7 linked regions of the Homo sapiens genome follow. The protein of the gene in region 6 purifies or fractionates together with the protein of the main gene of each other region. This does not show direct contact. Each region holds a gene or a part of one and is shown on either strand. Other genes may lie near its edges.

The links.
Region 1: the proteins of SLC11A1 (region 6) and PKP2 purify together in Homo sapiens (affinity purification with mass spectrometry; one large-scale study listed by BioGRID and IntAct). This does not show direct contact.
Region 2: the proteins of SLC11A1 (region 6) and CDS2 purify together in Homo sapiens (affinity purification with mass spectrometry; one large-scale study listed by BioGRID and IntAct). This does not show direct contact.
Region 3: the proteins of SLC11A1 (region 6) and CHAMP1 purify together in Homo sapiens (affinity purification with mass spectrometry; one large-scale study listed by BioGRID and IntAct). This does not show direct contact.
Region 4: the proteins of SLC11A1 (region 6) and WDTC1 purify together in Homo sapiens (affinity purification with mass spectrometry; one large-scale study listed by BioGRID and IntAct). This does not show direct contact.
Region 5: the proteins of SLC11A1 (region 6) and PLAGL2 purify together in Homo sapiens (affinity purification with mass spectrometry; one large-scale study listed by BioGRID and IntAct). This does not show direct contact.
Region 7: the proteins of SLC11A1 (region 6) and TOR1AIP2 purify together in Homo sapiens (affinity purification with mass spectrometry; one large-scale study listed by BioGRID and IntAct). This does not show direct contact.

The regions. Positions count from the first base shown.
Region 1 is NC_000012.12:32,795,409-32,799,881, forward strand, and holds part of PKP2 (plakophilin-2), read right to left. Parts: intron 891-4,473; coding exon 701-890; intron 1-700. UniProt on the Homo sapiens protein: A component of desmosome cell-cell junctions which are required for positive regulation of cellular adhesion.
Region 2 is NC_000020.11:5,195,698-5,199,360, reverse strand, and holds the end of CDS2 (phosphatidate cytidylyltransferase 2), read right to left. Parts: 3' UTR 1,474-3,663; downstream 1-1,473. UniProt on the Homo sapiens protein: Catalyzes the conversion of phosphatidic acid (PA) to CDP-diacylglycerol (CDP-DAG), an essential intermediate in the synthesis of phosphatidylglycerol, cardiolipin and phosphatidylinositol.
Region 3 is NC_000013.11:114,317,256-114,321,728, reverse strand, and holds part of CHAMP1 (chromosome alignment-maintaining phosphoprotein 1), read right to left. Parts: intron 620-4,473; 5' UTR 497-619; intron 1-496. UniProt on the Homo sapiens protein: Required for proper alignment of chromosomes at metaphase and their accurate segregation during mitosis. Involved in the maintenance of spindle microtubules attachment to the kinetochore during sister chromatid biorientation.
Region 4 is NC_000001.11:27,293,120-27,297,592, reverse strand, and holds part of WDTC1 (WD and tetratricopeptide repeats protein 1), read right to left. Parts: intron 3,572-4,473; coding exon 3,477-3,571; intron 3,080-3,476; coding exon 2,964-3,079; intron 1,268-2,963; coding exon 1,192-1,267; intron 546-1,191; coding exon 437-545; intron 1-436. UniProt on the Homo sapiens protein: May function as a substrate receptor for CUL4-DDB1 E3 ubiquitin-protein ligase complex.
Region 5 is NC_000020.11:32,200,661-32,205,133, forward strand, and holds part of PLAGL2 (zinc finger protein PLAGL2), read right to left. Parts: exon of another isoform or gene 4,434-4,473; intron 4,423-4,433; exon of another isoform or gene 2,820-4,422; intron 1,633-2,819; 5' UTR 1,519-1,632; coding exon 1,259-1,518; intron 1-1,258. UniProt on the Homo sapiens protein: Shows weak transcriptional activatory activity.
Region 6 is NC_000002.12:218,380,406-218,385,306, reverse strand, and holds the start of SLC11A1 (natural resistance-associated macrophage protein 1), read right to left. Parts: upstream 3,035-4,901; 5' UTR 2,939-3,034; coding exon 2,932-2,938; intron 2,348-2,931; coding exon 2,205-2,347; intron 1,065-2,204; coding exon 942-1,064; intron 161-941; coding exon 41-160; intron 1-40. UniProt on the Homo sapiens protein: Macrophage-specific antiporter that fluxes metal ions in either direction against a proton gradient.
Region 7 is NC_000001.11:179,846,177-179,850,649, reverse strand, and holds part of TOR1AIP2 (torsin-1A-interacting protein 2), read left to right. Parts: intron 1-1,775; exon of another isoform or gene 1,776-2,425; intron 2,426-3,013; coding exon 3,014-3,115; intron 3,116-3,821; coding exon 3,822-4,473. UniProt on the Homo sapiens protein: Required for endoplasmic reticulum integrity. Regulates the distribution of TOR1A between the endoplasmic reticulum and the nuclear envelope as well as induces TOR1A, TOR1B and TOR3A ATPase activity.

The sequences.
Region 1 (4,473 bases), on a different chromosome or scaffold from region 6:
CTCACTCTGTCAACCAGGCTGGAGTGCAGTGGCACGATCACGGCTCATTGCAACCTCTGCCTCCTGGGCTCAAGTGATTCTCAAACCTCAGTCTTCCAAGTAGCTAGAATTACAGACACGCACCACCACACCCAGCTAATTTTTGTATTTTTACTAGAGACAGGGTTTTGCCATGTCGGCCAGGCTGGTCTCGAACTTCTGACCTCAAGTGATCCATCTGCTTGGGCCTCCCAAAGTGCTGGGATTACAGGCATGAGCCACTGTGCCCAGCCCATCACTGCTTCTTCTAAACCACCTGGTGTGACATCCCCTCCTAAGATGGAAGTGAGGAAAAGGGCACTTGCCTATTCAGAGGACTCCTGCTTTGCCTACATTCTGCTGTTATTAAATCACAGCTGTGGCTTTGGGAAACTAATTCATTAGGCCAATACAATGCTGGAATGCACAACCAAGAGAAGTTCTGGAGTCTGACCCTCTGTTGATACTTTAGAAGAGAAGGGACAAGCATGTGGTGTGGTGGATTCAGTTCTTTCCTTGGCTGATCACTGAGGGCTGACCAGATGATCTGGCCTGGCTTTACATCCTGTTTGCTGCCATGTTGCACATGATGGTCATGACCGCACATTCACAACCGGATTATTTACACACAGGCTGGTGAGGGGAAAGGGAGGCAGCTGACGGGCAGAACTGAAGGACTTACGCATCGCCTGCACTAATGGCCATAATTTTCTGGATGCCCCCGGTGTTTAGAAGGTCGCGTGCATTCTGGTAACTGTTTTGGATTATGTTGTTCAATGTGTAACAGGCAGAGGCTGTAGTTTCAATGAGAAGGTCAGTACTCGGGACTGTGTCAGGAATGATGGAAACCAAATCAGGGAGAGTTTCTTTGGCTACAAAATGAAAAAAAAAACAAAACACTTGATTAAAAAGATTGTTTCTTAATCCCAAGATCCCAATATATTTTGGGTGAAGAACATTCTTTTTCTTTTTTTGAGACGGAATCTTGCTCTGTTGCCCAGGCTGGAGTGCAGTGGCACCATCTTGGCTCACTGCAAGCTCTGCCTCCCGGGTTCACGCCATTCTCTTGCCTCAGCCTCCCGAGTAGTTGGGACTACAGGCACCCGCCACCACGCCTGGCTAATTTTTTTATTTTTTTATTTTTTTTTATTTTCAGTAGAGACGGAGTTTCACCGTGTTAGCCAGGATGGTCTCGATCTCCTGACCTCGTGATCCGCCAGCCTCGGCCTCCCAAAGTGCTGGGATTACAGGCGTGAGACACTGCGCCCGGCCAAGAACTTTCTTAAAAAGAAACACAGCTGGTTAACAACACATGGAAAGATGTAATTTCCCTAATAACAAATTTTTAAAAATATTTGAAAAGAGGATACTCTGTGCTCAGTATATTGAAAATCTTTTCAGAGTGTAATTTGGCAGAAATGTCAAGAACTTAAAACATTTTCATCTTCTTCAATTCGGTAATTCCATGTCTAGGAATACATCTTAAAAATATCACTTTGAAAATGAAAAAAGCTTTCTACAGAGATCTTTATGACAGTACTACATGTAACTGAAAAACTAAAAAGCCTGAATATCCTTATAATAGGACTATGATTAACTAAAACACACCTGCAAAGACTATTATTCATCACAAAACCTATCTATGAAGCATGTATAATAAAAAGAAAATAATTATGTTAATAGTGTATGTGAAAAATCAGTATATTTATATAAATAATACATAATATTATTGGCCAGGTTCGGTGGCTCACACCTGTAATCCCAGCACTTTGGGAGGCTGAGGTGGGTGGATCACTTAAGGTCAGGAGTTCAGGACCAGCCTGGCCAACATGGTGAAACCCTGTCTCTATTAAAAATACAAAAATTAGCTGGGCGTAGTGGCACATGCCTGTGCCTGTAGTCCCTGCTACTCAGGAGGCTGAGGCACAAGAATTGCTTGAGCTTGGGAGGCAGAAGTGGCAGTGGGCAGAGATCACGCCACTATTCTCCAGCCTGGGCAACAGAGAGAGACCCTGTCTCAAAAAAAAAAAAAAAAAGAATACATACTATTACCAAAAAACCCACGTAAGAAACCTGAGGAAAAATGTTAATAGGAGCTGTTTTTCTACAACAATATTAATAGTGAACTAAAATCTTTTTTTTTTTTTGAAACAGAGTCTTGCTCTGTCACCCAGGCTGGAGTGCAGTGGCGCGATCTCGGCTCTCTGCAAGCTCCGCCTCCCGGGTTCATGCCATTCTCCTGCCTCAGCCTCCCGAGTAGCTGGGATTACAGGTGCCCGCCACCACGCCGGGCTAATTTTTTTGTATTTTTAGTAGAGACGGGGTTTCACCTTGTTAGCCAGGATGATCTTGATCTCCTGATCTTGTGATCCGCCCGCCTGGGCCTCCCAAAGTGCTGGGATTAGAAGCGTGAGCTACCGCGCCTGGCCAAGCTAAAATCATTTTTAAGGCCAGGCAAGGTAGCTCATGTCTGTAATCCCAGCACTTTAGAAGGCCGAGACAGGAGGATCACTTGAGCCCAGGAGTTTGAGACCAGTCTGGAAAATATAATGAGACCCCGTCTCTATTTTAAAAAGTAAAATTAAATAGTAAATAAATAATAAACGAATAATCTTTGCTTCCCAAGGTTTTTCCAATACATAAGTAATACTACTCTTGTTTTTTTTTTTTTTTTGGAGATGGAGTTTCGCTCTTGTTGCCCAGGCTGGAGTGCAATGGCACGATCTCATCTCACTGCAACCTCCGCCTCCCAGGTTCAAGCAATTCTCCTGCCTCAGCCTCCCGAGTAGCTAGGATTACAGGTACGCACCACCATGCCCGGCTAATTTTTTGTATATTTTTTTTTTCAGTAGAGATGGGGTTTCTCCATGTTGAGGCTGGTCTCGAACTCCTGACCTCAGGTGATCTGCCCGCCTCAGCCTCCCAAACTGCTGGGATTACAGGCGTGAGCCACTGCGCCTGGCCTACTATTTTAAAAAGAGAAATAAACTATTTTAAATGTACTTTTCTACTATGTATATAACTTCTTGGTTATAAGTTTTGAGTTTGGCTTTTTTTTTTTGTACTAACAAGAAAGGTATTAAAAAAATAGACATGCCACTTTCACAATTAGGCTATAGAAAATAAAAAAGATACATAGACCAATGGAATAGAATAGAAAACCCAGAAATAAAGCAAAATACTTACAGCCAACTGATCTTTGACAAAGCAAACAAAAACATTAAGTGGGGAAAGGCCACCCTATTCAACATATTCAACAAATGATGCTGGGATAATTGGCAAGCCACATGTAAAAGAATAAAGCTGGATCCTCATCTCTCACTTTATACAAAAATCAACTCAAGATGGATCAAAGATTAAATCTGAGACCTGAAACCATAAAAATTCTAGAAGATAACACTGGAAAAACTCTTCTAGACATTGGCTTAGGCAAAGAGTTCATGACCAAGAACCCAAAAGCAAATGCAACAAAACCAAAAATAAGTAAATGGGATCCAATTAAACTAAAAAGCTTCTGCACAGCAAAATAAATAATCAGCAGAGTAAACAGACACCCCACAGAGTGGGAGAAAATATTCACAAACTGCATTCGACAAAGGACTAATATCCAGAATCTACAAGGATCTCAAAAAAGCAAGAAAAAAGCCAAATAATTCCATCAAAAAGTGGGCTAAGGACATGAATAGACAATTCTCAAAAGAAGATATACAAATGGCATAAGAAAAATTTTTTGATACGCCTCATACATATGAAAAAATGCTCAACATCACTAATTATCATGGAAATGCAAATTAAAAGCACAATGAGATACCACCTTACTCCTGCAAGAATGACCATAATTTAAAAATCAAAATTTAATAGATGTTGGCATGGATATGGTGAAAAGGGAACACTTCTACACTGCTGGTGGGAATGTAAACTAGTACAACCACTATGGAAAACAGTATAGAGATTCCTTAAAGAACTAAAAGTAGAACTACCATTTGATCCAGCAATACCACTACTGGGTATCTACCCAAAGGAAAAGAAGTCATTATATGAAAAAGACACTTGTACATGCATGTTTATAGCAGCACAATTCACAATTGCAAAATATGGAGCCAACCTAAATGCCCATCAACCAACGAGTGGATACAGGAAATGTGGTATATACACACCATGGAATACTACTCAGCCATTAAAAAGAAAGACATAATGGCCTTTGCGGCAAATTGGATGGAATTAGAGACCACTATTCTAAGTGAAATAACTCAGGAATGGAAAACCAAATATTGGATGTTCTCACTTATAAGTGAGAGCTAAGCTATGAGGATGCAAAGGAACAAGAGTTATATAATGGATTTTGGGGACTTGGGGGAAAGGTAGGAAGGGGTGAGGGATAAAAGACTACACATTGGGTACAGTGTACACTGCTCAGGTGACATGTGCACCAACATTTCAGAAATAATCACTAAA
Region 2 (3,663 bases), on a different chromosome or scaffold from region 6:
GGCTCTGGATATGGAAGGATGCCAGATGCAGGCAACTGCACAGGTGCTCTGACGCCACTGGCCTAGGGCCTCCTATGGACTTCACAGGGCTGGACAACAGAGCCTTCAGCAGATGGAGTTGAGCCCAGGGACCCTCACCACTTCAGCAACATGTGAGCCCTCGGCTCCTGGTGCAACAAAAGGGAGCAAAGCAGCCAGGGAAAACGACTCATGTTGGTTTTCCCATCAGTCTTGGAAACTGGTGGCTTGCAGTCAGATTTTGTGGGGTTTAGGAAAGTAAGTGAATGCAGTGGGTTTTTCTGCATCTTGAATGTTGGCGAGCAATTCACTGAGGAAATTCCAATGGTAGTAGCTTTCCTATGGGTGAAAATGGCAGAGGCCCCTGTCCAAAAGGTAATCAATCTAGAGGTCCCACTGGCCTCAGACATTTGCCCTGGTAAGGCTGGCCTGCTGGCTCCCAGGAGTTCAGACCCTTCTGTCCTGGGGCAGGAGACACACAGTGAGGAGACAACATAAGGCCTCCCCAAGGAAGTGCTGTTGACGGTGAGAACTGCTAGGAAAAGAGGAGTTAGGCAGGCTGACGAAGAGCTGGGAAAGGAAAAAAACTGGGCAGAGGGCCCACGCCAGGGCCCGGGACAGGCGCACACCTGGAACAAGGAAGGACAAGCGGCAGCTGTGGCTGTGAAGGCAGGGCCCGAATGCGTGGGTCAGGCACTGGCCAGCTCACAGATGGCCCCAGAAGCCTCGTTACCAAGTCTGAACTTTAACCTCAAGACCCAAAGGGTTCCAAGCAGAGAGCTCATCCCAGCTATCATGCAAGAAATGGATTAGAGAGGTGGCCAGGCTGTAGGGAGAGGGCTAGAGGCTGCCTTAGAAATCCTGGCAGGAGATGGGGCCTGGCCCAGAAGGCTGGCAGTAAGGATGATTCCGAGGATGTTTGGAAGGCAGAACGGGCAGGCTTGGGTGACTGATGAGATCACTCCAGTTACTGGCTTGTGTGACAGAACACATGGGTAGTTAGAGAACACAGGACTCAGGACATGGGTCATAGGTTTGGGTTTTATCATGCAAAGTCTGTGTGAGAGGCCTCACAGGCAGCTGGAAATGCAGGCCCACTTGGGCTAGAGACATGGACTTGGGAAGTGTTGAAATGAGTGTGGTGATCAGGATCCTGGGAGGGGGTGGGAACACCTAGAGGGGAGAATTCAGTGGGCGAAAGAGAGCCTCAGGCAGAATGCCACCACCCAAGGGATGGCCCAGAAAAGAGACACCCAGAAAGAAGACCGAGGAGGAGCAACCAAGGGCAGGAGGAAAGCCGGGGGGGCAGGTTGCCAAGGCCAAGGACAGAGGGAGTCTCTAGAAGCAAGCGGTGGTCAGCAGCATCCTGGGAAATAATGCTGGCTCCACATAAGCAACCAAACGTCCACACCCCTGGCCTTCCGCCACCCCCACCATCGAAAACCACACATGATCTAGAATTTAATATATGTTTATTTGTGTAGTAGGAACATTCAGGTATATAAATAAGGTAAATGCTTTCCAACGTACAGTATATCATGTTCTTACATTGCGTGGAAAAAGAACCTACATGTATTGTTCAACATGGATCACGAGTGCACAGAGAGAGAGATCAGCTGCATTTAGTGAAACGCCAAGTTGGGAAAATGGCACAGCAGTAGCGCACAGGCACACAGCTATCTGGGGAGGCTGTGGGGACTGTCACGTGGACTCTACACACCGAGAACTGCTTCAAGGTCGCCTGTGTCTGAGTGCGGGTAAAGTGAATATCAACACCCAGGCTATCAGGGTGAGACAACTGAATTCCATCATGTCCATCCACTTTACAAAGGGGTGGGAGGCACCATGGAGAAACTGACCAGAAATGCTCTGCCCTGTCACAGAGGAGACAGAGCCAGGGCAGACACGGCTGACCTCTGGGAGGCACAGACACTGGCAGTGATGGGTCCCATGGGATGCCTGGCACTCCCAGCACAGACAGCTCCCCAAAGCAGGTGGGGAGGCCCTTTCTGTGTTTGGGAACTTTTTAGTTAAACAAATCCTCAGAATCGAATTAAGAAGGATGTCCACAGCTCGATCAAAAAAAAAAAACCAAAAAAAAAAAAAAAACCACCAAGGTTCCCAAGATCCTTCAACAGAGGGGCTTCCCATCTGATCTTACCCTCCTGTTTCAGAAGGTATTAAACATCAATAAAAATTAAAATATATTATCAGTATCAACTCTAGAAGATAACCCATGGCTTCAAATCTCCCTGGACGGGTTCTCTGAGCCCAGATTTCTGGTCCCCAACTCGTATGACATCCAGGGCCAGCGAGCGTTCAGCTGGCATCTGTTAGAGTCTGCCCTCCACTGTGAGACTCCTGGCCCCTCCGTGGCCCTGGTATTCCTCCTGCTGCTGCCCCTAGGAGTCCTCCAGCTGGATAACAATAAACCAAACCGCTGTCTCCTAATCCCTGACTTGTTCTCCTGACTCCTAGTCCTTTGGTTTCATCGGCCCCTGATGTCTGTTCAACTCTTCCCCTTTGTAATCAGCCCCTAGCACCCAGTCAGCATGACGTAAGACAGAAAAACAGTTTACTAAAGGCCAGAGCCCTGTGCACAGAGGATTTAAAAGAAACAGCACCCAAAGGACACTCATGAAAACATGTATGCACATTCTGCCTGCTAGAAAACATTCTCAACCTCTTTTCTACTCTGCTGTTCCTTTAAGAAAAGCCAGCATACAAGAACCTAGCGCAGGTGTCAAAAAAAGGCATCCAAACTGCGAGGACAGAGGTGGCTATGTGGATGATTATCGGCAAACACAGTTTCACTAGAGACAAAATCACCAGGTGGCTAACCCTTCTGAGTGCTTTATGCAGGCAAGGTCCTCTGGGGGCTGCAAAAGGCTAGGCCCTGCCCAATGCCCGGGAGACCACTGCAAAGGCATTCTCTGCTTGATTTCCAGAGGGCCCTTACCACAACCCCCTCCCCGGCCCAGCAGTGGAGGCTTTCTATGGATACAAGGCTGCCTAGGTCTATTCAACAACACAATGAGGGAGGAAGCACCAGGCAAGGCAAACACAAACCCAGAAGGACAGGAGGGCTCGGGGGCAAGCCTGGGATTGGCCTGTCACAGCAGCTGCTTCCTAGAAACCCCCACAACCATCTTCTCCTGGTTCATGGCATTATCATTACTTCAGCAATTCAATGAAACAGAGGGACCATTATTTCCATACTATTAATAGCAATGTGCTGTTGGGTCCCACTAATACCCAGGAAATAATCCACAGTCAAACCAGTAGTTCAGTTATTATTCAACTGACCTAGGAATTTCATGGATCCTGTTAGCCAACACCATTCCTTCAAAGTGAGGCAGCCTCCCCTTACACACACGTGCCCCAACTCCCCACCCCCATTCAGAAAACTAAGTTCAAGAAACTCTTTTCATTAAGTCCTGTGCCTGTTCTCCCTTCATTCATGAGTCACCCATTTGAGTCTTTGCTAACCTAGAATCCGGCAGAAATACCTCACATCATGTGTCCTCAATGGGTCACCCACTTCTACCCGGTTACTACTTTTAGAAGGAAACATGAAGCTCCAGATTGGCTGCGTCATAAGGATGTGGGCAGAACTTCTAGGCTTTTAGTCTACATAATCCCCTA
Region 3 (4,473 bases), on a different chromosome or scaffold from region 6:
TGCATGGAAAAATAATGGGTTAACCATCCGTCTCAGAGCCCATTGTTAAATAAAACTAGAAGACTTTAGGGGAAAACGTAGGATATGTCTCAATAATCCCATGAGGCAATAATGAACAGCCCAACTGGCAATAATGAACAGCCAAGCTAATATTAAAGAGCACTATATTACATATTGTAATTACAACAGAGACTAAGAGCTCAGGTGTGCTGGGTTTGAGTCTGACTCACCTACCATTCCCCATTCCTCCCAGCCATCCCTCCTCTTCCCGCTGCCTACCACCAGCTCTTCAGGCCAATCTCATACTTAAATCTACAAAGAATGCTACAGAATTCACTTCTCATATCCCAAATTATGTATATCTAGCACACAACACACATTATATCCATAAGGGCGTGTACACTTTTAGAGATTTTCCTCAAGAACTCCAGGTATTTTTTTTTAATTTTCTCCTCATAAAATATTCTCCTAAGCATGCTTTCCCTACTAGACTTACCTGCTGTCTTACTAGACACCTTAAAAGTGGTCTTCAAAAGGCAGGCATTCTACATGGCTTTTTGACTAAACCACAGCAAACAGCCTATAGTATATGAAGAAGAACAAAGATGAGAAGTTGAACCTGGAAAAAAAAAAAAAAAAAAAGAAAAGTAATCAAAACTATATCTGTGATCGTGTGTGCCCCCTGTAATGGAATTCTGTGTATTTCTCTCACCATCCTGCCCTAACAGTGAGAGGAGTCCAGTCCACTAAGCCTGCTTACTTTTTTTTTTTTTGAGACAGAGTCTTGCTCTGTCGCCCAGGCTGGAGTGCAGTGGCGCGATCTCGGCTCACTGCAAGCTCCGCCTCCAGGGTTCATGCCATTCTCCTGCCTCAGCCTCCTGAGTAGCTGGGACTACAGGCGCCCGCCACCACGCCCGGCTAGTTTTTTGTATTTTTAGTAGAGACGGGGTTTCACCGTGTTAGCCAGGATGGTCTCGATCTCCTGACCTCGTGATCCGCCCGCCTCGGCCTCCCAAAGTGCTGGGATTACAGGTGTGAGCCACCGCGCCCAGCCCGAACACTTACTTTTATGAAATGACACCAAAGACTACAGTAGATACCACTCCTGACACCATCCTTGTCTACTTTCTCTTTAATGATCCACTATGGAATTATGCCCGTGTGTGTAATCAAATCCTTCTCAAACCCACCACCTAACTTCACTTCTCTGATAAGCACTCAGAAGACTGCTGGTGTGACTACTGACTATAACAATGGCTGACTTTTGTCAATTATTGATATTACACAGCAGAGTGCCAAATTAACAGGCAGTGGAGGAAGGGACACCACAACAAAGAGGACCAAGAGGCACAAAAAGAAAGGACTCTGGGAGGAGCAGGATGGCAGTGTCCTGACCCCAAGGAAGAACACATGGACCTGCTTCAGTGATTGCTCTGCCCTCTTCTCTTCCTGCATGCATTTCAAAGATAAAGCATCATGGTGTGGGTGAGTCTGCTGACAGGAACAGAATGTGATAAACTGGCCATGCACAAGCTACACAACAGCTCATATTATGCTTCTGATTAGCTCCAGCACATTCATCTACCCCTTCTCTATCCCCTACCCCTATCACTGCTTTAATTCTGACATCTGAACTCCCTGCCACTAGTCTCCTTTTCTTCCAACCCATTCATCGTACAGCTACCAAACCTGTCTTCCAAACAGAAGCCTAATGTGATCTGCCTGTTCACATGTCCTCCAAGTCAACTAAGACACCTACAGTATACAATTTGAATATGGCATATAAAGCTCTTCACAGTCTGGCCCATGACCAGACTGCATTCTCAAAATACTGGCCCACATGTAACTCCCTGACTATTCCAGCGTCTGTGCATTTGTATAAACTATTTCCTCTCCTTTACACTCCCTGTCTTGCCACCCGGCCATCAGGCAAACTCCTTCATCCTTCAGGCAGGACAGCTTTTTAAGTCAGCTGTCTTTCTGTAAACACAGGGACCTGGTTCCAGGACTTCCCCCATATGCCAAAATCCACACATACTCAGGTCCTACAGTCAGCCTTGTGGAATTCCCATATATGAAACATCTGCCCTCCATATAAATGTTTCACATTCTGTAAACGCTCTTTTTTATTGGCATTTGGTTGAAGTTCTAACCTCTGTTATTCATGAGTCAACTGTACTGGTCAATTCCCCACTTCTTCCCAATCTTCCTAGAAGCCCCAGCTGTACATGTCACCCTCTGGCACTACAGCCTGATACCAAAAACAGGATGCCAGCTCCTGGAGAGGAGGGACTATTATCCCTTTATTCACCTCTGGAACCGTTGCACATCCCTGACACACAGTATGTGCTCTGTTCAATCCTAACATTCTCTCAATCTTAGACTCACAGGATTTTAAAACTAGAGGAAACCTAAGTTACCATCTAGTCTCAAAGTCATAGGATTTGAGGGTAGGAAAAGACCTCAGGGATCATCTACTTTAAAACTTCAATTTATAGTTAAGGAAACTCAAGCTTGACATTAAACAGCTTGCCCAAATCAGACAAATGATCAGTATCTGATGAGAGAATAAAGTTCTGCTATCTGTCCAGGTTCTTTGTAGATATACACAAACTAATACAGTGGAATTTAGTAAGATCTTTTAAAGCCTGTACAATAGTCCAAAATAAACAAGATGAAACAAACACTTAGAATCCACATATCAAGTGCATAAATACAGGACTATAGAGAACTATATCCCATATTCTGCACTGGGCAGAGTACACTATTCCAGTGGATCACTGTCCCCAGCTCTGGGCAGGAAGGACACTTTAAGAGAGTCTCTAACAAACTAGGGAACATTAAAAAAAAAAAAAAAAAAAAAAAAAAAAAGGCAACCAGGATGGCAGATGGCCCTTTAAAAAAAAAAAAGTCATTTACAAATAAAGACATTTAACTTCAAAAGGGGAAGAATTATAGATAATATATGAGCTATCCTAGAAGTGACAATCAGAAGCTAGCAGGAAAAGAATTGTGGCTTAACACAGTTTACAATCTACTCTATCATGAACTAGAACGAGTTCCTTTGTCAGGTAGGAGTACTCCATAATTAGAATCTGATGATCAGGCCGGGTGTGGTGGCTCAGGCCTGTAATCCCAGCACTCTGGAAGGCTGAGGCAGGTGGATCCCTTGAGCTCAGGGGTTCAAGAACACCCTGGGCAACACGGCGAAACCCCGTCTCTACAAAACATACAAAAATTAGCCGGGTGCAGCAGAATGCACCTATAGTCCCAGCTACTCGGGAGCCTGAGGCAAGAGAAATCGCCTGAGCCTGAGAGGCAGGAGTTGCAGTGAACCAAGACTGCACCATTACACTCCAGCCTAGATGACAGAGTGAGACCCTGTCTCAAAAAAGAAAACCAAAAAAAAAAAAAAATGATGATCAGCATAGGACTAGAAGGATCTTCAGAGGTCTTGAGTTCAACCTCTTCATTTTATAACTGAAAAGACTGATGCTGAGGGAAAGAAGTGACCTGTCAAAGATCACAACACTGAGGTCAGAGGGAACAGTTTTTTTATTCTGGTTTTCTCAATTCTGGTCTCTGCTGTAACAAAATGCTGTCTTTCCCACAGTAGCAGAACGATCCACGAAGATGTTACAGAATTTAGTCCCAGAATTCAACTTTTAGGCAAAGCCTAGAGAGCTGGGCGTCCTTCCAGCTTTTAGGTTCTAGCAAAATTTCTTCCTAAATTTAAGAACTCCTAACCCTAACTAAAAATTAACTCAGAATTGTCCAGATTAACAAAAATTTCTTTTTGTCTTTGAGACAGATTACATCTCGTCTCTAAAAAACCTAAATTCTAATCATTGGTGCTCTGCCAGTCTATCACCCAGTATCCTTCAATGCAATGTTATGCCAGATGGTGTATCATACCTATTTCCCATCTCCCATTCAATTTCTTCTTTGAAGTCGAACACCACTGATCATCTTTTAAAACACATCTGATGCATAGTTTTTTAAATTAAAATTCAATAAGTAGAACATGTTCAAAGCTAAATGGGTTCTATTAGTCTATACACACTAGCATTGTTCTTTATCTTAGCGGACTTTTTTTCTTTTTTAGAGACAGGGTCTCGCTCTGTTGCCCAAGGTTTTGGTGCAGTGACGCCATCACAACTCACTGCAGCCTCATACTCCTGGGCTCCAGAGATCCCCCCGCCTCAGCCTCCTAAGTAGCTGGGACCATAGGTACCTGCCACCACATCTGGCTAATTTTTTTTTTCTGTAGCGATGAGGTCTCACTATGTTGTCCAGGCTGGTCCTGAACTCCTGGCCTCCAGAGATCTTGTTGCCTTGGCCTCTCAAAGTGCTGGGATTACAGGTGTGAGCTACCATGCCTGGCCTTTAAGAAATTAATAAACTGGGCGGGCGCAGTGGCTCACACCTGTAATCCCAACACTTTGGGAGGCCAAGGCAGGCGGATCATTTGAG
Region 4 (4,473 bases), on a different chromosome or scaffold from region 6:
TGTCTAGAGAACTCTATTTCTCTCAAGGCTAGGGAATTTGAGCGCCTCTGTATCCAAAGCCCAGCACAGAGGCTGGCAGAGAAAAGAGGCAAGGATATGCTATAGGATGGGGAATAATATAATGCGGAGGCCCATTTGTATGCAGCCCCTTTTTGGAGACAGCTCAGTGCTAAGAGGCAGCTAGCTCCTGAGTCCTGACCCCAGTTACTGGTACCAACAGGCTAGAGCTACAGTCTGACCATGACTAGTGTTCTGCCAGGCAGAGGGGCACTGGAAACACTAGGCACCCTCCAAGAAGGCTCTTTGCCTTGGTCCTCACTCTCTGGGATGCATGAGTGGGTGTGGGTCAGGAGGAAGATTTACAGGTTATGTCCCTCCCTCCAGTCCATATAGTGTAACTGGGGCTTGGAGGGCTGGACAAGCCAGCTGGCCTCACCTGACATGTCCCCTACTCTCCGGCAGCCGGAAGCCATTGCTATGAAGGTGCAGGCCATTGGACACACCGTTGGACACACCGTTGGTGGACATCTTGCCATTCTGGACTTCTGGCAGGAGATAGTGAGAAAGTGACAGCAACAACTCAGGAAGAGGACCCATTTCTTCCTGGCAGCCCTCTAGCTTCCATCACGGGGTCTGATGGTTCCATCGTGGGACTGTTCTCCCAGAGTAAGATCCATTCCCAGAAAGCAAGTTCTGACATAAAGAAAAGCCCGTGCGCCCTCTGCTGGCTGGCGAGGGACACAACTTCACCGTGGCATTACTCAGCTGGGGCTGGGGCTGGGGCTAGGGCTGGGGCTGGGGCTAGGGTTGGGGCTGGGGCTAGGGCTGGGGCTGGGGGTGGGAATGGAGTGAGGAGGTGCCTAAATCAACTGTAGGCCCCAGGAAGAAATCAATGAGAAGACTGGGCCAGGATACAAAGGAGAGGGGAACTATTTCAGGTTCTCAAGAGCCAAGCCATGGAAGGAACCTGTCTTTTCAGAGGGAAGCAAAAAGGGCAGTGATGCAAAGCTCTTGAAGAGATCTCTGCTCTATTGTCATCCTCTTTCTTACTGCATAGGTGGGGTTATTTCAGAGATCTGCTATTTTTGGAGGATCACGGTCCAGAGTAAAGGGCAGGCTTCTCAGCAGGTGTAGCATGCACTTAAGCTCCCCTACACCGCCGCAGTAGAGATACCCTAAGGGAGAACTTACCCCCCGAGGAGTGGCATTTTCTAGGCAAGAGGAAGGTGTACGGCCGCTGCTTGTAAGTCAAGTCAAACAAATAGACCTAGAGTTGAGGGGGGCAAAAAAAGAGATGGAAGCTGTGAGGTAAGGATGTGGTTGAACCAGTAAGCAGGTCTTGGTTTCTCAAGAACTAGAGTCTTGGAACACAGTGAGTGTTGAGCATAGAACAATCAAGCTATCCTAAGAGGTACTTCCAGCAAACCTCAGGCTGGAAAATCTTCCTAGCTCTAGCATTCAGGGTGGGCTATCTGATCTACCCAAAGTCCTGCTTGAAATACTATCATTAATTAGAATCACATTTGGCTGGGCATGGTGGCGTAGCCTGTAATCCTAGCACTTTAGGAGGCTGAGGCAGGAGGGTGGTTGCTTGAGCCCAGGAGTTTGAGACCAGCTTGGGCAACATGGCAAAACCCCGTCTTTACAAGAAATACAAAAACTAGCCAGGTGTGGTGGCGTGTGCCTGTGGTCCCAGCTACTCAGGAGGCTGAGGTGGGGGAATCACTTGAGCCTGGGATGTCGAGGCTGCAGTGACCTGAGATTGTACCACTGCACTCCAGCCTGGGTGACAGAATGAGACCCTGCCTCAAAACAAACAAACAAACAAACAAAATAGAAGGTCAGGTGCAGTGGTTAATGCCTGTAATCCCAGCATTTGGGAGGGTGAGGTGGGCGGATCACCTGAGGTCAGGAGTTCGAGACTAGCCTGACCAACATCGTGAAACCCCATCTCTACTAAAAATACAAAATTAGCCAGGCGTGGCATGTGCCTGTAATCCCAGCTACTTGGAAGGCTGAGGCAGGAGAATTGCTTAAATCCAGGAGGCAGAGCGGAGGTTGCAGTGAGCCGAGATCGCACCATTGCCCTCCAGCCTGGGCAACAAGAGCGAAACTCCAACTCAAAAAAAAAAAACAAAAAACACGTCACATGTTTAAAAAGATGAAGAAGTCCTCAAAGGTCACAAAGCCAAATGTTTACCCTAGCACTACTCCTGAGCTTTTCATGATTCCTTGGACAGGTCCAGGAATGTCTGGCTTATCCTCACCTATTCTGCATCCCGCTTCATTTGTATATATTTGGGCCTTGCCTTGTAATGTCATTAACTGTTTCGTTTGTCATGTCTCCCATCAGCCTGGGGATGGATCATATTTCCCACTTGTCTCTATTATATTTATAATAATGCGAGTCCCAGAGTAAGTGCTCAGTGTTGGTAGAGTAAATAAATGTATGCAAGGCTTACTAAATATCCTGAGAGCACACAAACAGAAGGTTTAGCAACCTGCCATTATCAAAGAACACTTCCCAAAGCTGGCACTAACCCACAGCTTGCTCTGAGCTGCATGCTCTGAGCCCCAGGGATTTCCTCCTAGGAAAATAGCAGACGAGGAAACTGAGGCTCAGAAAAATAAAGAGACTTGCTCAAAGTCACAGTAAACAGCTGCTGAACAGCAGGCCAGCATTTGAACAGAAGTCTGTCCATTCCAAAGCCTATATTCTTAACCAAAATGCCATACTATCATATTTCTATCTAGTTCATTAAGAAAAAATGAAATAAAAAGACTGAGCTAGGACATCTCTCTGGGAACTCCAATGATGCCACATCACCCCCACATTTCAATGTAACATCATTTACCATAAGGCTGTTGTGTCTTGTCTGCCTCAGCAGTGAACATAAGGTACATGCCCCTGGCTGCTGGGCATGGAATGGTGATGGGGCAGAACCACCTTATGCTGTACATACCTGTTCCCCCCCCATGTTGACTAGTAGCTCTGTGCCATTGGGGCTGAAGGTCACATAGGTGGCAACCAGCACTCTCAAACGGTTGTTGTAGTCAGGAAGCTTCACTGGCAGGTGACCTGCAGGGAATAGCCCAGTCATACTAGGGTCCCAGTCCCTTTCAAAGGGGCATGAGATTGTGTGAAGTCAGTCATATCAAAAATTATACCAATCAACTTTAGCATAAAAGCAGCTACAAGTGTTGAGCCCTTACTATATGCACTGGGCTAGTTGCTTTATATATTTTATCTCATTTAGTCATTATAACCCCATTTTACTTAACCTTGATGAGTTTCTTTTCTGTAATTTGCTGAAGGTGACATAGCTTGTCAATGGCAGAGTTGGGATTAAAACTCAGGTCTGTCTGACTCTAAAACCCTTGCTCTTGACCACCATGCCATGCTGTCTCCCTGGACTGCCCCCAAAAGAGTCAGCATCTAGCCGAGAGTTTGGGGCCAGAGCTGTGCTGAGCGCTACCTGCTACGTAATACTGGGCTGCACCGTCCGGAAGGGGTTTCTGCCGGTCACAGAAGGTGTGCACACCCGCTGAAGGGCTCTGCTTCATGCTCTTTCTGGTGGGAAGGAAAATCATATAGGTTAAAGTTACAGCACTGCCCCTGGCTAGACCAGACCACACTCACTAGACGAAAACTTACATTTGTATCTGAGACATACAGGAGGTATTTTTCCTCCTTACCTAAGCAACCCCAAAGGCCCACCAACTAGACAATTACAGACATATACATTACAGTGCTTTACCAGGTAGGTCCTATAAGCTGTCTGGGTCTTCATGACCATCTTATTTTTCCCATTTTACAAACAAGCAAGCTAAGGTTCAAGACCCGCTCCAAGCCATGCAGTGTGTGAGGGGCAGCAGTGGTCACCAAGCCCATGAATGAAAATAAACAGGCGACATTCCTGCATCCATCCCAAGAATCATGGAAAGCCCAGGCTGGAGAGGCAACTCAGGTCTGAGAGTGCTGTGGGGGTTCTGAGTGTTATAAGAACTAGCAGGAAATATTATATACAGTGATTTCTTTAAGAAAGACACTATAAGAGATTTATATAAGAAATTATAAGAATAAATAAATATAAGGAAATCATAAGGAATTTATGTAAGAGATTATGGGTAATTTATACTTTTTTTTTTTTTTTTTTAATTGAGACTGAGTCTCACTCTGCCACCCAGGCTGGAGTGCAGTGGCAGGATCTCTGCTCACTGCAAGCTCCGCCTCCCAGGTTGACGCCATTCTCCTGCCTCAGCCTCCCCAGTAGCTGGGACTACAGGCACCCGCCACCACGCCCGGCTAATTTTTTGTATTTTTAGTAGAGACGGGGTTTCACCGTGTTAGCCAGGATGGTCTCGATCTCCTGACCTCGTGATCCGCCTGCCTCGGCCTCCCAAAGTGCTGGGATTACAGGCGTGAGCCACCACGCCCGGCCTAATTTATACTTTTCATATTTTCCAACATAA
Region 5 (4,473 bases), on a different chromosome or scaffold from region 6:
GTTCACTGCAACCTCCTTCTCCTGGGTTCAAGTGATTCTCCTGCCACAGAGTCCCAAGTAGCTGGGACTACAGGCATGTGCCACCACACCCAGCTAATTTTTAAAAAATTTTTAGTAGAGATGGGGTTTCACCATGTTGGCCAGGCTTGCCTCAAACTCCTGGCCTCAAGTGATCCGCCCGCCTCAGCCTCCCAAAGTGCTGGGATTACAAGTGCGAGCCACCACGCCTGGCCCAAAATTGCTTTTGACCATGCCTCCCCATCCTCACCAAAGCAACCAAAGCTGCTCTTCTCTATCTGCCTTATGTCAGGGCTTTTACGTTTAATTTCACTTTAAGTAGGGGTTCTTGGGCTTACAAGTTTCAGAAAAGCAGCTGCCCCAGTGGGCAACAGGGAGACAGACATAGTTAAATGAGTAAGTAGCAGGCTGATTCAGTAGAAGAGGCACTGCAGGACCTCTGAAGCTGTGTGACCTTGGGTAAGTTATGTCCCTACTCTGAACCTCTACTTTAAAATTTACAGACTGGGCCAGAAGGTCTACTTTTCCTTCTAAAGTTCGAATACTGATTCCTAACTTCTAGCTAAAATTCTGACCATCACCTGACAAAGGTGAGGAAAGCAATATTTAAAAAAAAATGTTCAGGGCTAAGTGCGGTGGCTCATGCCTGTAATCTCACTGCTTTGGGAAGCCAAGGCAGGAGGATCACTTGAGCCCAGGAGTTTGAAACCAGCCTGGGGAACACAGCCACACCCCCATATCTACAAAAAATTAAAAACAACCAGGTGCGGTGGTTCAAGCCTGTAATCCTAGTTACCTGGGAGAATGAGTCAAGAGAATCACTTGAGCCCAGGAATTGGAGGCTGCAGTGAGCTGATTGCACCACTGTACTCTAGCCTGGATGACAGAGCAAGACTCCCATTTCTTAAAAAAACAAACAAACAAACAAACAAAACTCAAGGCTGCCTGACATTGGCACCCAGATCGTCACTAAGAAGGTGTAAGAAGGCCAGGTGCAGTGGCTCACGCCAGCAATCCCAATACTTTGGGGAGGCAACCCATCAGATTCTAGTGTCTGAATCAAGCAATCTGAATCATTTTTTAGTGAGTGACTTCAACTGTTTGGCATTCAGGGTATACTTGTAGGACAAATTAACCTCCACTCTTCTGCCACAGATTAAAAACCCACACTAGGCAGAGTCTCTCTGCTTTTTCCCTCTGGGAACCTCAGGGCAGGAAGAGATATGAGAGTGTCACCTACCTATACAGCTTGTATTTGGAAGCAAAAGCCTTGCCACAGTGCAGCTGAGGGCAGCTATATGGTCTCTGCTCTGGTTGCGGGAGGCTGTGAGGCCTCAGCTTCTCCCCATTTGAGAAAGGTGTTCCCGAAATTTCACATTGGCACTTCACTTGACTCTCCGCCTCCCGGCCCCGAGGCCTGGGAACTAGTTTCCAGCCCACTTCCTCCTCCTGCTTTGCATCTTGAATCCAGGGGGGGACGCTGGTGAAAAATGTGGTCATGGCAAGGCTAATGGCAAAGGGCCATGTTATTGAGAAAGCCTCCCCATCCGCTCCACACAGGCTCTCAGCTCTGTCACAGCCTCCAACGCAGCTTTCAGAAAACAATCTCTTCACCTGAAACATCAGAACACCTGGTGTTAGGGAGCCCAATACCATGAGAACATGGGCTCTGGAAGCAGACAGATCCCGTTCCAATCCCAGCCCTTCCACTTAGAAGCTGTGTGACTTTCAGCCAATTACTTACTTCCCTGAGCTGTTTCCTCATTTATAAAATGGGCATAATAATCTCCTAAATTATAAAAATGTTTTGAGGATTAAATGAGATCATGAATATAAAGCATTCAGCAGAAGGCTGGGCATCCATTAAGTGCTTAGTGGTAGCTACTATTACTAGTACCATCTAGGCTAATAAGAAACAAGATAAACTGAGGAACCAAAAGCCCCAAAACTTCAAACTTTTTCTTCTGGACCTCACTTTTATATCCTTTCCATTGAACCTAGAGATAGCGGTTCCTCCTTCTTATTACCCTGGCACCTCCTCGTCCACTACTTTCCACAATTGTCCTCCTCATGGAGGTGCTAAGGAGCAATAAAATGCCCAAAAGGCAAGAGAGGAGGAAGGGGAAGCCTCTACTTAGGAAATTTACATCCTAGTCAGTCCTGGTACCAGATGTGTTTCTTAGCAGTGCATCAACATCAGGAGGGTCTATATGGGAAGGCAACAGCAGATTCTTAGCATTTTCCCTAAACCAGGACTAGAACTGGTCCCATCCTGACCACCACCACTTCTCTGGGTCACTGTGTCTCAGGGCCCAGACCATCCCTCTTTAGCAAAGCCTGTCCAACACCCCTAGGTGCTGAGAGGCCCCTCCTACAGGGCCTCAGAGTACATATGCACATCTCCTTTAGAAGACGGTAGCGAGCTCGCATTGGAATTTACTCCTCTCCACCAGCCTGATTGTCTGAGGGCTTGCATCATCTCTCTTTCATCTCTATATACCTAATATCTAGAAAAGGAACCCTAACTTTATTTCAGATAGGTAAACTAGTCACTGAATGCAGGTTGATTCTCAGGGACCAACCTAGGCCCAGGTAGTTCTGGTTTAAACTGGGTTCGCAGCCATTCCCAAGTGGGGAGCCGAAATCTTAAAGTCTGATTCTTTCTCTTGTTGAATAGAAGGGGAGATGTGCAAGAACGACACAACTCCATTCCAGATACTAATCCAGAGGAAGAGGATGGGAGTTACCACACTGACTCTCAAAAGGGGACAAGAGACCCACATTCATACTCCCAAGCTTACCACAGATTACCAACCACGATGCAACCTGCTACAACAGGGGGATTCCCTTTGAAGAGATGGTGCCAAAATTTGATCATGAGGCTTTTCCATGTGAAGAGAGAAAAGGGGGTGTCTGGGGATTATCCACGAGAATCTGGGGAGGGCTCCAACTGCACAAACTAGCTGTGGGCCACAGAATGCTTGCTCAGCTCATTAGCACCTGCTGCTTACAGTGACCATTCATCCAACAGACTGGCCGTGAACAAGATGATGGGATCAGCGGGTTCATGCCCCAGAGAGCTTTGCTCATCATTAACATGAGCTACGTCCTGTTCAGGAACCATTCCTCTTGTTGAAGAAACACTGCGATGTAATATGATAAACACGTCCCCATCACGAGTGTAGATTTGTCTAGAAAGATCTGCATTAAGGTGGCTGCATTTTGCATGAATCACATGCTGGGGAGGGGTAGGTAGCACTAAAAACTAGTCCCACTTGAGCCTTCAAGTCATTATGGCATATGTGCCTGCTTCACTATAAACCTCAAAGGCCTGTGACGTCTGGCTTTCATTGTTTAAGTCCCCTCCTCCTTTGCAAGGGTGGAATTACCTGTTTGTAATACCAGCAATTACTATGCACCTTGGAATTGAGCAGAGAGTGTGCTCGAGTGTGCATGTTTAGATTGGAGGGAATTACCCCTACCTTCAAAGTCAAATTCTACTCCCCCTTCAATTTGAAATCATGCACCTCAGCCTCTGGAAAGTTGGGAATGGCAGCCAGAAGGAAACAAGTCACATCAATTTGGCTGATGTGAGAGAGGAGCCTAGCCCTGGAAACTCCACACAAACTCAGAAAGAGAACATTACGTCCCCACCTCCCACACGTCCACCTCATCTGTTCTCCTGAACAAGCACAAACAAGACACAATAGTTTAGTAGGCTGCTACTGAAAGAGTGAGTAATGGGCTTCTAGGAAAGAGGCTGGTGGTGGCTAAGGAGCTTGTACTGATAGAACCAAAGGAGGAAAGCAGCAGCCATGTGCTCACCTTGATCTGCTTTTAATGGGGCTATGTCTTCACAAAGAAAAGAGCCAACACCCTGATCCTACTCTCCTACACTTTTCAAAAGGCACAGGAAGTCCCTACCTACAGTCACCAGCAGCCTCTTGGATAACCAAAGCTGCTAGTGTTACCTAGGAACCCTTTTGGGGATCTAGTCTCTCTCTGCCCTTTGTCTGAAAACTCCTCTGATCCAGAAAGATTCCTGGGTTTGTCTTACATAAGCAGAAGGCCTGTTCCTTCAGACTTGTCCTTCCTCAGCAAAACTGTGAAAGAATTCTACTTCTCTTTCAAAGCTGCTCTTCTGGTCTCACATTTTAATCTTAACAACTATAGACTATAGAGAAGCTGACAGAACCTGTTTCCATAAAACAAACACAATCCTTCCCAGTTACTGGCACAACTCAGTATATTTTCAGCCTAAGATTCTTTCTAGTGCCTGATCTGAAAGGGGAAAGAACCTTGGACTTGCTATCAGAAGAGCTGCCACTTACTGGCTGGGAAACCATAGGCAGGTTACTTTATTTCTCTGAACCTCAGTTTCCTCAATTTCTAAAATACGGATTTATTTTCCTTACCTGTAAGATTCGTATAGAGGATTAAATGAAATAATACTCT
Region 6 (4,901 bases):
GGGGCCAGTGGTTCTCCCTGTCCAGGCCCCCCAAGCTCACCTTAGGGTAGTAGAGATGGCAGACCTCGCCCAAGTCCTTGCCTGTCACCACGCCCAGACGTGCAGCCAGTCGCTGGCAGAGCAAGCCCAACACGGTGGCCCAGAGCAGCACCCAGAGAAGCTGTGAGGAGGCAGGGAGAGGCCTTCAGCCAGAGAGGCCAGCCTCAGAAAGCCCCTGAGCTCGTGGTACCCTCTAACCAAGCATACTCCTCGGGGAGGGGGTGGGAGAGATGGAGTCCCATCCTGGCTGGGCGCTGGTAGCTCACCCTGTAATCCCAGCACTTTAAAAGGCTAAGGTGGGAGGATTGCTTGAGTCCAGGAGTTCAAGAGCAGCCTGAGCAACATAGTGAGACCCCCATCTCTAAATAAATAAATAAATTACGCCAGGCAAGGTGGCTCACACCTGTTATCCCAGCACTTTGGGAGGCCGAGGCGGTGGATCACTTGAGGTCAGGAGTTCAAGACCAGCCTGGCCCACACAGTGAAACCCCATCTCTACTAAAAATACAAAAATTAGCCAGGCGTGGTGGCATGCACTACTCAGGAGGCTGAGGCAGGAGAATCACTTGAACCCGGGAGGCAGAGGTTGCAGTGAGCCGAGATTGTGCCACTGCACTCCAGCCTGGGTGACCGAGTGAGACTGAGTCTCAAAAAATAAAATTAAATAAATAAATAAATAAATATACATATATATATTTTAAAGAGAGGAGTCCAGTCCCCTACCCCCCACACAAATGCCCCACCTTCTGGCAGGGCTGCCCTGGGGACCCTTTTCGGGCCCATTTGAACTTAACACCAGCTCCCAGGCCACATTGGAGAAACATGGCCAGCAGGGGCCTTCAACACTTAGCCTGGTCACCTCCCTCTCGAAAGTGTCCCCACTCAGGTCCCGACTTAGTTACTTTGAATCCCGCCACGGCGCCAGCCTGAAGATCTGACTCGATGTTTCCTGGGTCCAGGAAAGCAATGCTCATGAGGAAGCCAGGCCCCGTGAAGGCCCATAGCTTCCGCAGGCTGAAGGTGCCCTGTTGGGGGGTGGGAGGAGTAGAGTGAGGGGGTCCTGGGTATAGGGATGGTGGCAGCTGGCCTTGGCCATCCCCTAGAGGAGCCCCAACAGGCTCATCAGCCCAGCCCTGCCCTCCATGGCCCATTCCTGGGTCTGCCACCCAAGGGATGGGGAGGGCATGGGTGGAGGAAGCAGCATGCTCTGATGAGTCACAGAGGATCTTTTTCTGGATCTGTTAAGCTCAGCAGCCGGCTTGCACCTGAACTGCCTGCCCCTCAAGCCCTGACTTGTCAGGTCCTCAGAGACCTCACAGGGGGCTGTCTAAGGGGGTGAGGGGGCCAAGCTTCCCTAGCCCAGCTCCTCCCTTGCCAGCTCCTTTTCAGACCACGGGGCCTCCTCTCTGTGGTCCGCTGAGGCTATGGTCCCCCCACCCTGTTCCAGAGCATGGCATATTGACTTAGAAATCTGCTGAAGATATTGGAGGCTGGGAGCGTTGGCTCGTGTCTGTAATCCCAGCACTTTGGAAGGCCGAGGTGGGTGGATCACTTGAGCTAAGGAGTTTGAGACCAGCCTGGCCAACATGGTGAAACCCTGTCTCTAGTAAAAATACAAAAATTAGCCTGGCATGGTGGTGCATGCCTGTAATCCCAGCTACTCGGGAGGCCGGGGCAGGAGAATCGCTTAAACTTGGGAAGCGGAGGTTGCAGTGAGCTGAGATCGCGCCACTGCACTCCAGCCTGGGCTACAGAGCGAGACTCCATCTCCAAAAAAAGAGAAGATACTGGAAATGCAGGTGACAGCATCCTAGATGCTAGATGCCAGCCTGCAGCCTCCTTCACTTCTCCCTATGCCCTTTCCTAAATGCTATAACATGTCCTCAAGGCTCCAATCCCAATTCCCCCTGGGCCTCTTTTCCTTCATAGGAAAGCTGAGATTCATTGAGAAAGTCATTTAATCGCTTTTAGACAAATACTGAAGCACCCCAGCTAAGCACTGGGGACGGAAGCAGGAAGGGGCAGTTGCCACTGTCCACCACTGCTGCTCAGACCTGGAAGGGACTTGCCACCCATGATCATAAGGAGACCCCATTCTCCAGCCCATGGGATCCTTCAGGATCCTGTCAATCTTGCAAGCCCCCAGGAAGTTTCCAGCATCCCACCGGTTTTGTGTCTGGGATGGGGATCTTCTCACTCAGGTAGGTCTCTCTGGGAGGTGCTTGCTGTGGCCCTGGGCTGGTCGGGCTGGTCGGGCTGGAGATGGAACCATAGCTGGACCCGCTTAGCCTTTGGGGACCCTTGTCACCTGTGGGGGCCCATGAAGCATGGTGAGTGTCCTGCCTCTTTCTGGTGGCCCAGAGTTAAAGCCGCCTGATCCTTTCCCTCCTCCTCCCGGAAAAGTGGAGAAACTAAGGTCCCTGGCCCCCATCTTGGGTCCATCACCTCCACCTCTCAAACAAACATTCCAGATGTGTGGGACATGGCAGCTTCAGAATTACTGTCCTCTCATGTGAGGACAGATGCCCAGAGGCAGATCTCCTGCCACAGAGAATGCAGAGAGACCCTAGGCTCTAAGAAGGGCAAGCTGAGGCCACATGTCTGCCCCTTGGCTGGACCCCTCACCTTCTCCGGCAGCCCAGAAAGCTCCAGGGGCTTTGATCCACGGACTTCAGACAAAGGAAAGGTAGACCGCTTAGGGGTGTGAAGGACTCCACCCAGTGAGATTGAGTCTGGTGTCCAGAACTGTGTTCTAGACTAGGACTCCCACGGGGGACCAGAGGCTTCCACAGGGGACCAAGGGCTTTCTTGCTTCCTCAAGTCTCCACCAGCCTAGTGATCTCCTCCACTCCACCCCCCAATCAGGCTCTGTCCCTAGGGGCCACTACTCACCTGTCATTGAAATGCCGACTTCAGGTACTCTGGGAGTGTGAGCGGTGCTCTGGGCAGCTCCTCAGCCTGCACCCCCTCTCTGGGCACTGGTGCAAGTAAGTGTGCCAGCCCACGCCCTGTTACCCATCCGCAGCCGAGTGCCCTGCCTCTTACATCAACATTCGGTTCACATCGGCCGATTCACACACACACACAACATGGGGCGTTGTGAAACATTTTCCAAAGGCAGAAGTGGCCAGCCCTGGCGGAAGGGTCTGGTTACCCATGGAGTGGACCTTTGTTCCCCTCCCAGCCTGCCCTGTGCCCCACAACACATCTGTTCCCCTTCCAGGCACCCCGTGTTCTGTGCCTCCCAAGTTAGCTCTGATTTCAGATGCTTCCTGCCCCTTGCGTATTCATGTCAATACCCCATGACCACACCCCCCTCTGCCACACACACACACACACACGTACACACACACGTACACACACACAGAGTCAGGTCTTTCTTATTCTCTTTGATCTGGAGTTCCAAGACCCCTCGTTGGCCTAATGCGAGTCTTCATGTCCTCAAAGGCTTCAGTTTCCCTTTGAGGGCCACAGAGGAAGGCACTGCAGAAGGGACATGCATTGAAGATTCAGACCCAGGACGTCCCCAGAAGATGGGGCACTGGGATCTGGTCCTGGTTCAACCACTGATTCACTTGAGATTGTCACCAGATCATGTCCCTTCTCAGAGTTGTTTATTCTATTCCACCCCCACCCTTTTTTTTTTTGGTTTTTCGTTTTTTGTTTTTTTTTTTAGAGACAAGGTCTCGCTCTGTCACCCAGGCTAGAGTGAGGTGTGAAGTGCAGTGGTGCCATCTTAGTTTACTGCAGCCTCAAACTCCTTTTTTTTTTTTTTTTGAGACAGAGTCTTACTCTGTTGCCCAGACTGGAGTGCAGTGGCATAATCTCAGCTCACTGCAACCTCTGTCCTCCATGTTTAAGCAATTCTCCTGCCTCAGCCTCCTGAGTAGCTGGGACTACAGGCATGCACCACCACACCCGGCTACTTTTTGTATGTATGTATGTATGTATGTATTTATTTACTTTGAGATGGCGTCTTGCTCTGTCACCCAGGCTGAAGTGCAATGGCGCGACCTTGGCTCACCGAAACCTCTGCCTCTTGGGTTCAAGTAATTCTTCTTCCTCAGCCTCCTGAGTAGCTGGGATTACAGGCACCTGCCAACCACACCTGGCTAATTTTTGTATTTTTAGTAGAGATGGGATTTCACCATGTTGGCCAGGCTGGTCTCAAACTCCTGACCTTGTGATCCGCCCGCCTCAGTCTCCCAAAGTGCTGGGATTACAGGTGTGAGCCACTGTGCCCAGCCAATTTTTGTATTTTTTTTAGTAGAGACGGGGTTTCACTATGTTGGCCAGGCTGGTCTCGAACTCCTGGTCTCAAGTGATCCACCCACCTCAACCTCCCAAAGTGCTGGGATTACAGGTGTGAGCCACCATGCCTGGCATATAGCCTTAAACTCTTGAGCTCAAGAGAGCCTCCCTTCTCAGCCTCTCGGGTAGCTGGGAATACAGACCTATGCCACCATGCTTGACTGTTTCTTCTATTAACTGAGGGGCTCACAGGAGTTTGAGACCAGCCTGGGCAACATAGTGAGATCTCATCTCTACAAAAAATTTAAAAATTAGCTGGGCATGACCGGGTGTGGTGGCTCATGCCTGTAATCCCAGCACTTTGGGAGGCTGAGGAGGGTGGATCACGAGGTCAGGAGATCGAGACCATCCTGGTTAACATGGTGAAACCCTGTCTCTACTAAAAATACAAAAAAAAACCCAATAAACAAACAAACAAACAAAAAACAATTAGCCGGGCGTGGTGGCGGGCTCCTGTAGTCCCAGCTACTCAGGAGGCTGAGGCAGGAGAATGGTGTGAACCCGGGAGGTGGAGCTTGCAGAGAGCCGAGATCGCGCCACTGCACTCCAGC
Region 7 (4,473 bases), on a different chromosome or scaffold from region 6:
TTCCACTATATTAAGTTGCTTCCTACACATAAACTGCATTTCTAAGCATGTTTTTATTAACTGTTTATATTAATGTGATATGACAAAAAGGGGCATGACTTTTAAAAAATTCGCTTCTGGTTTTTTATTTCTTATGAGAATATTTCGACTTACAATTTTTAAAATCTTTTACTTTTTGGGAAACTAAATGTTACATAAATCAAGAGATGGGTATATTTAAAAATGAGCATTAATGGGACAGTATCCTTAACTCAGTCATGTTTCAGTTTTATAGGACTTTGAGTAAGACAGTTAGTTTCTCTATACGTGGTTTTTTCTGCCTATATGTTAAGAGGAACAAGCATGTCTTCCCTTATGAAGCTAAGCGTTGCAGTGTGCTAAATCCTTAACTGGAACTGGAGGTGTGAATTCTAGTTGTGGCCCTACCACTTGCTGACTTGGGAGACCTTGGGAAAATCTTCCCTTCCTGGTGCTTCAATTTCCTGTTTGTAAAATGAAGAAGTTGGACAAGATGATATCCAAACATTCTTCTAACTTTCACCTTCTGTGATTGTCTGTGTGGGTTTGTATTTTATAAGCACTCTGAAGAGCTCAGTCTGAAATGCCCATTTGCCAGTGCAAAAGAATATAAAATATAAGATGTTCTGTTCATCAGGGACTTCAGCAAGGGCTAGTAATTCATGTTTCACTGCAAATCAATGACTAATCTCAAATATATGTTTTATTTATTAATCATTAGAATAATCTGTAACTTCAGTGAAGGCAAGGACTGTGTCCTCTCATTCATTGTGTATCTCTGGCACCTGGCACATAGAAACACCTTTATGAATTTTGTCAAATGAATGAATGTGATCTGTAAGGACCATGACCTGCGTCAGAATTTCACTGTTATAAACTAGGTGCAATTACTTACACCTCTAGTCCCAGTTACTTGGGAAGCTGAGTTGGGAGGATTGCTTGAGCCCAGGAGTTCAAGCCTGCAGTGTGCTATGATCACCCCTGTGAATAGCCACTGCATTCTAGCTAGCCTGGGCAATCTAGTGAGATCCCATCTCTTAAAAAAAAATTCACTGTTAGGCAGGTTCACTGTGAGTAGAAAAAATATTGTTTAAAAAAATCTAGTTTAGGCCAAGGGTGGTGGCTCACTCCTGTGATCCTAGCACTTTGGGAGGCCAAGGCTGGTGGATCACTTGAGGCCAGGAAGACCAGCCTGGGCAACATGGCAAAAACCCATCTCTACAGAAAACACAAAAACAGCTGCATGCACCTATAGTCCTCAGGAGGCTGAGGTGGGAGGATTGCTTGAGCCCAGGAGGTTGAAGCTGTGGTGAGCCGAAATTTCAGCACTACACTCCAGCCTTGTTGACAGAGTGAGACCCTGTCTTTAAAAAAAAAAATGCAGTTTATGTATGGAAAGCAATTTAATATAGTTGAATGAGGTTATCTATACTCTAAGAGATGAGAAACTTTGTTTTCATCTCAACTTAGCTATATCTCTTTTTTTTTGTTTTTTTGAGATGGAGTCTCACTCTTTTGCCCAGGCCGGACTGCAGTGGCGCTGTCTCGGCTCACTGCAAGCTCCGCCTCCCGGATTCACGCCATTCTCCTGCCTCAGCCTCCCGAGTAGCTGGGACTACAGGCACCCGCCACCGTGCCCAACTAATTTTTTTTTTTTGTATTTTTAGTAGAGACGGGATTTCACCGTATTAGCCAGGATGGTCTCGATCTCCTGACCTTGTGATCCGCCCGCCTCGGCCTCCCAAAGTGCTGGGATTACAGGCGTGAGCCACTGCGCCCAGCCAGCTACATCTCTTTATGTGACCTTGGGCAAGATCTTTAATATCCCTGGACCTTTTTTCATGATAGGTTAAGTAATGGGGCCGGAGTAGGTGTCCATTATAGATCCTTTCAGTTCTTAGATTCTATGATATGATATTTTAAGAACCTACTCTTTGGGGTGATAGGAACAATCCTTTATAAGTGAAGATGATCCTACTCATCTATGCTAATAGAAGTACCTGGCTGGGGTTAAGCACAAATTTAGATTCTAGTGTGATTTAGCTTAGAGTGCTAAAAATTGTTGCCCTTCTTTTCACCCACATATTTTAAGCTTGGCATGCCCTCCCTACATCTGGATTTTTACATATTTCGTGAATTTTCTTCACCTTATATTCCTTGCTTTGTATATCTCCTTCACTAAGAGTTTCAAATTTGCTTCTGTAAGCTATTTTGCAACTGTACACTAATCTCTCCTATCTTAGAACTTAGTGCCTCTGTTATTTTTATATTCGGGGTCTTGAGGAACCATGTGAAACTCGAACACTGGAATTAGAGCACAATTACCCTGTGAAGTTGAATCTTGTGTACAGCCAACATTTCTTAAATCCCTTCTTGATTTTATACATTTTGCTGAATTACATTTTAGGTAAGTTTGGCCGCACTATTTAAATGTCTTTGTCTTTGATATAAGAGGCAGTAAGGAATTGTGAATATAGCAACATTATCCTTGAATGAATTTCACAGTATTTCATTTTATCCTTCTAAGTAGAATAAAAGTAATAGTCTTAAAGAAAAGACAGGAAAAATGTTAACTTTGGTTTTTTTTTTTTTTTTTTCTGAGATGGAGTCTTGCTCTGTCCCCCAGGCTGGAGTGCAGTGGCACGATGTCGGCTCACTGCAACCTCCACCTCCCAGGTTCAAGCGATTCTCCTGCCTCAGCCTCCCACGTAGCTGGGATTACAGGCGCCCGCCATCATGCCCGATAATTTTTGTATTTTTAGTAGAGACAGGGTTTCACCTTGTTGGCCATGCTGGTCTCAAACTCCTGACCCCAAGTGAGCCACCTGTTTCAGCCTCCCAAAGTGCTGGGATTACAGGCATGAGCCACCGTACCTGGCCAAGGTATAGAAAGCCTTTTAGTCAAATCATTCTTTGGTTTGGTGAGAGATATAAAGGTATACATACTGTCATTAGTGTACTGCCTAAAAATAATATTGATTCTTTTCCTCTCCAGAGGCTGGAAGTCATCCACAACAAACACAAAAATTGGAAGAAATTAAAGAGAATGCACAGGACACCATGAGACAGATTAATAAAAAGGGTTTTTGGAGCTATGGTGAGAACAAACCTGGTTTTACTGCAGTGTTGATTCACTTTCAGAAATCCTCAGTGAAAATGCCTAGAAAACTAGCAGATTTAAACAGTTTTAACATTGTGTTTATATATACTTATTTAATGATTGGTAGTGAGACATAGTAAAATAGTACACTAGAGTTTTAGGGATTTTTCCCTTACGGGTGCTGGCTGATATTTTGCTGTGCTTAACAAAATGGAATTTCTCACAATAGGAAAGGCTTTTCCTAAACAAGAAACAAAAACTGCCTTTCTAATTAGAGAATATTAATTTTTCAAGTGCACTTTAAAGTTATGACTCCTAAAAAAATGGTCGGCTATAGGTAGTAGGTGCATTGAGAAGATGAAAAAAAATCTTGATCACTCATGTCTAAATTACATCATTAGTTATAATAACAAATACATAGACTCAGCTTTTACCTTTTATTTTTAAAAATTTTTTACCGAGTACTTAACTCTTCCACGTAGCTTTTATCTTTTAACAGATATATCTTCAAATAATTAAATCTGAGAAGAGATTAGAGAAAAGGTACTTCTGGTGGATTGAAAGTTTAAACAATTTATGCAAAAGAAACTTATTGCTCCTAGTAAAACCTGCTGGTATCTCTGCCTCATTTCAGTTTACCACAGGCTTTGTTTCTGGCTCGTGTTCTCTGTAATTTTCTATTCCTTTTTCATTCTTTTGACAGGCCCTGTGATTCTTGTCGTCCTGGTTGTGGCTGTTGTGGCAAGTTCTGTGAATAGCTACTATTCCTCTCCAGCCCAGCAAGTGCCCAAAAATCCAGCTTTGGAGGCCTTTTTGGCCCAGTTTAGCCAATTGGAAGATAAATTTCCAGGCCAGAGTTCCTTCCTGTGGCAGAGAGGACGGAAGTTTCTCCAGAAGCACCTCAATGCTTCCAACCCCACTGAGCCAGCCACCATCATATTTACAGCAGCTCGGGAGGGAAGAGAGACCCTGAAGTGCCTGAGCCACCATGTTGCAGATGCCTACACCTCTTCCCAGAAAGTCTCTCCCATTCAGATTGATGGGGCTGGAAGGACCTGGCAGGACAGTGACACGGTCAAGCTGTTGGTTGACCTGGAGCTGAGCTATGGGTTTGAGAATGGCCAGAAGGCTGCTGTGGTACACCACTTCGAATCCTTCCCTGCCGGCTCCACTTTGATCTTCTATAAGTATTGTGATCATGAGAATGCTGCCTTTAAAGATGTGGCCCTGGTCCTGACTGTTCTGCTAGAGGAGGAAACATTAGAAGCAAGTGTAGGCCCAAGGGAAACGGAAGAAAAAGTGAGAGACTTACTCTGGGCCAAGTTTACCAACTCTGACACTCCCACCTCCTTCAA